Homo sapiens: one gene and its partner. The protein of the gene in region 1 purifies or fractionates together with the protein of each later gene. This does not show direct contact. Each region holds a gene or a part of one and is shown on either strand. Other genes may lie near its edges.

Region 1 (3,653 bases):
TACACAACACAAACAAAACTTTCCATGCTACCAAAAAGACAGAAGGGGCACAACCGACAAGTTACTGAGCTGAGGCTCCAGTCAACTCTTCTATGTGTCTACAAACAAATTTCAAGTGCTAACTTTAAAAAGAAAATTTTAAAGTCACTATAGATAAAAACTCATACATAGAAGAATTAAACACACTTTAACAGGTGGACTGACACACCAAAAGTCATTACAGTGGCAGAATAATTTCCTCTGCTACTCTTTCCCCAGATAACCAAATTAAGAGGTACCAGCTTCGGTTATTTCAACAGAAGTAATCCTAGGCCAAGCAATATGCTGTTCTACTCCAGGAATGTTTTACATAAAATGTGAAAGCAAATGCCAAGTGTTTTCTCTGGGAGCTTAACAAGGGCTTTTTAAAGTTTCAAAATCACCAACATTTTCTCCAGAAAGGAACCACATTTTATTCCTGTAACTCCCATGTCCTTGGACAGAGCTGGAGAAAGGTGGAATGAGGAATTTGAACTCAGCAAAGTTCAGGGAAACAATAATTAATTTTTCTTCCCCACTGAGAACAGTATGGCTTCAGGACCAACCATTACACCCTGTTCCACTGGTTAGGCACACTTTTCTGATGTTGGATCTTTTTTCTTTAAAAATAAGATTAAAGAAAATCTTTATTACTAATATAAAATCTGTTCATTGAAGAAAATTCAGAAAACACATATAAGCAAAAAGGAGGGGGGAAAAATCATTGTGATACCACCATCCATTCACTGTCAACATTTGTGAATATCCTTTTAGCTTTTTAACCTATGTGTCTATGTATATATCTATAGATGCACATATATACAAATACATACAAAAACATGTGCATTTTTAATTTTAAAAATCCATACTGACCACAGTATTTGATGATCTGATTTTTTTCCCCCATAACCTATCTTTTCAAACTCTAGTGTATAATTTTACATTACACTTTGCTTTTATGGAGTTGTAATTCAACCAACTGACTACTGTTCTGAAATTTAGGTTTCCAGTTTCTCACCACCAATACAATTTTGTACTGTGTAAAAATAAATCTAACTTGCATAGACTCAGTAGAAAGGGGCACTGTATCAAGCAGGTACAGTGGCTTTTGGAGAGTAAAGCCAACAGCATTTGGGGAATTAGCAATGACGTTTCCATGACCAGTGAAGAGAACAATGAAGAGAAGGAAAACATCTGAACTACGTATTTCAGAAGAATTTAAACTGACAAATTCTAACAGGGCTTGGCTGCTATATCATGATTTGGTACTGTAAATAAGTGACTTTGGCATTAAGGTCGTGTAAAATTGCCTAATTTGGTCAATAACATTAAGGAATTTATAAAGTACATTTCTGGCTGGGTGTGGTAGCTCATGCCTGTAATCTCAGCACTTCGGGAGGCCAAGGCAGGAGGACTGCTTGAGCTCCAGAGTTTGAGACTATCCTGGGCAACAAAGTGAGATCCCATCTATATATAAAAGATAAAACAGGCCAGGTGCAGTAGTTCACGCCTGTAATCCAAGCACTTTGGGAGGCCGAGGTGGGCAGATCACCTGAGGTCAGGAGTTCAAGACCAGCCTGGCCAACATGGTGAAATCCTATCTCTACTAAAACTACAAAACTTAGCCGGGCATGGTGGCTCATTCCCATAATCCCAGCTACTTGGCAGGCTGAGGCAGGAGAATTGCTTGAACCCAGGAGGTGGAGGTTACAGTGAGCCGAGATCGCGTCACTGCACTCCAGCCTGGGCAAAAGAGTGAGACTCTGTCTCAAAAAAAAAAAGATAAAATAAAAAATTTAAAAGTGTATTTTTCTTTTTTAAAAAAAAAAAAAAGACAATATGATTCAATTAAAAATTTTCGTTTCCTGGAGAAATAATTGTCAAGTCAGGTGGCATACCTGAGGTTTCCTCTAAAAAATTATCACTGTCTTATGGGCTTTATAAATAGATATAAATTGTATAAACTACACCCCCCCCCCAGTACTATAGTACTTCTGTCTATTCTTAGGAGAGGCTTAATATTTTGCATGGTGAGAATTAATCATATTGAATAAGTAATTGAATAAGCAACACCACATTACTTACCTGCAGACCAATTACACTTTGGCCAGCTTTTAATTTTCCTTCATCAAAACGTCTTGTTTGTTTTTCTGCATACTTAACTCCAATGTCAATGGTTGTATGGAATCCTTTTGTTTTAGCCTAGACAGAAACATGCACACTAACTGAAAAGGCCAACAGAGTTTCACAGAAGGAACAACAAAGAAATGATATGTCCATAGACAAAGGGGCCCAAACTAGAGATAAAAAGTATTTAAGGCTGTTCAATAATATACTGCATCATTTGAAATGTGAGTGTTCTAAGTAAGCTATCTAGTACGATGCAGCTGATGTCAGCAGCCTTTCCACAAAGCTACTAATTACAGAAGAGACAGGCCCCGCCCCACCTGGTCTGAACCCCCATGAAAAAGCAATGATGCAATTCATCACCAATGTGGTGGGAATCTGTTAACCAGCCATTAAAGACATGTACGTACCAGACCTGCTAGAGCCACCAGAGTAGTCTGAACCTGGGTCATGTTTCCATTCTCAAAAAGATCATTTGCTTCGAATATGTCATGTGGCTTCATACCATAAGCCTGAATAGCTTTAATAAAGTTGCCAATATTCTCCAACTATAAAGAAGAAGAGTTTTATAATTTCTGGAGCTAAATATTGACATTCATAATTTCTAAGAATTCCAAGTCTTCATAAACAGTTATAAGACGCTGCCCAGAAAGCTGTTTGACAAGGATTCAACCAAATACATACTAAGCATGGCTCTCTCTGGAACAGGAAAGAGCAAGAAGAGAGTGTGTCTCTCACTGTGGGTCACATCACAGTCTTAATATTTTTAAGCAGTTACGTGTTTTCAGTTTTTATGGGCAAGATCTTCCTTATATATTTTAAAAGGATTCTGTATCAGAGCTATCCAGGCCTGGAATTTTATTTGTCAAAAGGTGTATAATTACTCATACTAATAAATAATTCATTATGTGTTATTTTAATTTCAGAATACATTTGTGGTTACTAAATACTCATTCTCTCATATCTCCAAACACATGTTCAAGACCAGTAAGTATCCCATTTTCCTTCCTCATACACACTCATGAACTAAGGTTATGTCTGATACAGTGCTCTGCAGTCCACTGTTAGTTATGTGGAATGCCTTGTTTTTTCCCTTATCCTTAAGGTCTGGGTTGCATTTCTCTGTGTAAGCTGTGTCAAGTCCTTTCTGAATGTACACAGACTAAATATAGGAAAACTTCTAAGCTAAACGTAATAATTACAGAACTAGTTAAATAAGTAATTACAGAACCATTACAAAAGGGCAAAAAATTAAATATGCACAAATTTCTGCTACAATGTCTATGTAAAAACCGTAATCAAAAAGTTAAAAAAAAAAAAAACACAAAACCAAAAAACCAAACCTGAAATCAAGTTTTCACTACATAAAATGCAACCAACTAGAACCAGAGGTGGTTGGTTTGGCTGTTACCTGAGGCCAGTTCAGTGAGGACTCGTTGACCTTCTTCACTGAGCCTGGCTGTAGCTTGTTTATAAGTCTGAAAAGAAAAATATGAGAGACATCTTAT
Region 2 (3,826 bases), on another chromosome or scaffold:
GGATCTTGTAACAATGTGATTCTGATTCTGTAAACTTTGTGGGGAGCCCAAGATTCCACATGTCTTAGAGGCTCTCAGATACTGCTGATGCTGTTGATCACGAATCACGCATTGAGCAGCAAGGTCCTAGAGCTCTTTGTGTATGAAGAAGATACTACTGACCCAGTGCCTCGCTATCTTGAAAGGCAGCTGTGACCTTTCTAGCAACTGAGGGGGTGGGGACTAGAAACGAGTGTTTTCTGGTGTTTCTCTAATAAAGCTGCTGTCTTGTATCCAGATTGACCATCAGTATCCTTATGCCCTTCAACTAACTTGAAATTTGTCAGTTAACAGAAATTACTGGGTGGCACTAAAATAAATTATTCTTAATATAAAGGGTAAGAAAGGGTCGGGTGTGGTGGCTCATGCCTGTAATCCCAGCACTTTGGGAGGCCAAGGTGGGCAGATCACCTGAGATCAGGACTTTGAGACCAGCCTGGCCAACATGGCAAAAACCCGTCTCTACTAACAATAAAAAAAAAAAATTAGCCGGGTGTGGTGGTGGGTTCCTGTAATCCCAGCTACTTGGGAAGCTGAGGCAGGAGAATCGCTTGAACCCGGGAGGCGGAGGTTGCAGTGAGCTGAGATTGTGCCATTGCACTCCAGCCTGGGGGACAAGAGCGAAACTCCATCTCAAAAAAAAAAAAAAAAAAAAGAGTAAGAAAGGATCTTCCATTGTAATCATACTATCATTGCCTTTTGAAACAATTTGGAACCTGATTACAAAGTTGAAAATCCCCATCTGTATGAAGAAAAGCTTCACTGGCTGGTCACCTTGGCTCAACGCCTGTAATCCCAGCACTTTGTGAGGCTGAGGCGGGTGGATCACAAGGTCAGGAGTTTGAGACCAGTCTGGCCAACATGGTGAAACCCCATCTCTACTAAAAATACAAAAATAAAAAATTAGCCAGGTGTGGTGGCAAACACCTGTAGCTACTCAGGAGGCTGAGTCAGGAGAATCGCTTGTGCCCGGGAGGCAGAGGTTGCAGTGAGCCGAGATCATGCCGCTGTACTCCAGCCTGTGCGACAGGGCAAGACACCATCTCCAAAAAAAAAAGCTTCACTGTGAGTTATGATATGGGAAGAAAAGTCTTGGCCTGGCCACCACAAGGAATCCCTCAGGCCTGGCGGTGGGAAGCAGAGGAGGGCGCAGTCTCTTTAGGGCAGAAAGTGAAGAACATTTCTATGACAATGGGGAAATCAGTTCACCTTTGTGTTGGTAAACAAAAGGAATGTAAGCTGTCCTTTGAGCTCGAATCATAGTGGTGATTGCCAAAACCTACCTTTGTTTTTAGAAGATAATAGCACATATTCCACTTGCTTCCCCACAGTGACCGAAGCTGGCTTTGGTGCTGACATCGGAATGGAGAAATTCTTCAACATCAAGTGCCGAGCTTCCGGCTTGGTGCCCAACGTGGTTGTGTTAGTGGCAACGGTGCGAGCTCTGAAGATGCATGGAGGCGGGCCAAGTGTAAGTGCCCACACCGCCTTCCTAATACCAAAGAAATTTCATTATGTTAAAACAGAATTGAGCATTTGAAAAATTCCTGCCCATTTAATGACTATAGTTTTCTAGAGTATTTTTCTTAAAACTTTTTTTTTCCTGTAGACCTCCCTCGTGGACATCTAAAACGTTTTTTGTTTTGTGTTGTTTTTTGTTTTTTCCCAACACCACCATAGGGCACTTTGAGTTTAGTAAGTTCGAGTAAACAGTAACACCCACAGTTCTTTCTAAACAATATTTTGGAAAGGAGCATAATGCAACCACTTTTTAGTCTCAAGCTTCACATCTGATACTCAGGCCAAGATTGTATAACCATATGGTAATGGGAGGTTAGAGGCTCTTGTCCCTGAACGAAGAACAAGAGGATTAGAGTGAGTTCTTTGATGACAGAGATTTTTCATTGTTTGTACAGATAGTTTTTCGGTTCACTGATGCTGCAACTCATCAGATTTCATCTAAAACTATTTTCCTTCTCTTTCTGTTTATTATGATTTCTCCTCACAACTCTGTTATAATACTGGATTGTTTCTAAGAGCTTTGCTTGGAAAACACAAATTCGATTTTAACTTCTTTAAAGACTTTTTATATTTACCTATCCTAATATATATAGAAATTACAGACATTATAAAGGAAATATATTCCTTTCCACAGAAAACCTGTGCATAGATTTTTGGGGGTTTTTTTGTTGTTGTTTGCTTGTTTGTTGTTTTTTTGTTTCATTTTTAGGAATTTCCAAGTGGAGAATAAGACATTTTATACTGATTAATCATTTTGAAATAAAATAAAATTTCTCTATCATAATATTCACATATGAGACGAACTGCCAAATCTGATTTCTTAATTGGTATACTGTACTGTGTATGTGACAAAAGTCATATATTCAATGATTATTGCATAGTCAAAACAAGTAGCAGGTTTGCCATCATGAAACGCTGTAAAGCAATTCTTTCTCCTGGGAGAGGTGGACATGATTTTTATACCATTTTACAGATAAGGAAGCTGAGTTTTGATAGGCTTAGGGAATATGGACAATGTCAGCAGGCCAGCAGAGAGCCGAGAACTTCAGATCTAAATCTCCTACTATGTCCACCATGCAGAGCTGGATGTTAATGAAGGGCAGAAGTTTTCTAAATCCAAATCCACTCCTAATACCCGACACTTAAGCACTTCATTTTTGCCTAAAGCTTCATCATCATTTCAAATGCAAGAATGATATAATACAGATTAAAAGTAGTAAATCATAAAGAATTCTGACTTCACTCAAAACACCCCTTGTTGCTACAGTCCTTCCTGGATTTTAGACATTGAATCTGTATAACAACTTCTATTTTTAAAAACTACTTCCGCCCATGTAGGATGCATTTGGAATTCTCCCTCCCTGCCCTGCCACCCTGAAAATTATAGAAAGGGCTTAGAGATTGTCTGATCTCATTCAGTCTTTATAAAGAGAAAATCTCTGAGGCACAGGGAGACGCAGTGACTTGAGTGGTGTCACACATCTATTTCAGGGACTGATCAGATCTACAGTCCTGGTCTCTTGACATCAGTCCCATAGTTTTCCAGACTCTGGTCTCTGTCCTGTAAAAATTCTCTACATGGTTTACAATCCTATTTCATTCATCTTAACATATGTGCTCTGTTATTCAGTGGTTGCACTTTCGTGCCACATTAATCCTTTGTGTCTCTTCCACTGCTGCTTAATGTCATGGTTCTCAGCCAGTGATCATGGTAACATGGAACAGGGTTAGTAGGCACAGATATGGGTGGAGGATAAGAAAAGGTGGGGACCAGCCAGGCGTGGTGGCTCATGCCTGTAATCCCAGCACTTTGGAGGCTGAGGCAGGTGGATCACCTGAGGAGTTCAAGACCAGTGGTGGCGGGCGCCTGTAATTCCCACTACTCAGGAGGCTGAGGCAAGAGAATCGCTTGAACTTGGGAGGCAGAGGTTGCAGTGATCTGAGATTGCACCATTGCACTCCAGCCTGGGTGACAAGAACAAAAGTCCATCTCAACAACAACAACAACAACAAAAAAAAAAAAAAAAAAAAAAAAAAAAAAAACCAGCAGGGACCAGGAAGCCCTGTGAAGCTAGGCATCCCTCTCCTGGGCTCCAGTAGTACCTTCTGCCTCACATTGTTTCATGAATGCCTTGTTCTGTGTCTCCCTATGTAATTCTCAATTCCTTGAGTTTAGGGACTGTGTCTTATTAATTGGTATGGTCCAAGTGTCTGGCATGGTCTATATGCAGGGAGTGTTTTCAATAATGGCAAGATAAATGAACTT

What was found.
Region 2: the proteins of CNN3 (region 1) and MTHFD1L fractionate together in Homo sapiens (co-fractionation; one large-scale study listed by BioGRID). This does not show direct contact.

The regions. Positions count from the first base shown.
Region 1 is NC_000001.11:94,899,566-94,903,218, forward strand, and holds part of CNN3 (calponin-3), read right to left. Parts: intron 3,624-3,653; coding exon 3,557-3,623; intron 2,694-3,556; coding exon 2,556-2,693; intron 2,221-2,555; coding exon 2,104-2,220; intron 1-2,103. UniProt on the Homo sapiens protein: Thin filament-associated protein that is implicated in the regulation and modulation of smooth muscle contraction. It is capable of binding to actin, calmodulin and tropomyosin. The interaction of calponin with actin inhibits the actomyosin Mg-ATPase activity.
Region 2 is NC_000006.12:151,008,449-151,012,274, forward strand, and holds part of MTHFD1L (monofunctional C1-tetrahydrofolate synthase, mitochondrial isoform 2 precursor), read left to right. Parts: intron 1-1,370; coding exon 1,371-1,510; intron 1,511-3,826. UniProt on the Homo sapiens protein: May provide the missing metabolic reaction required to link the mitochondria and the cytoplasm in the mammalian model of one-carbon folate metabolism complementing thus the enzymatic activities of MTHFD2.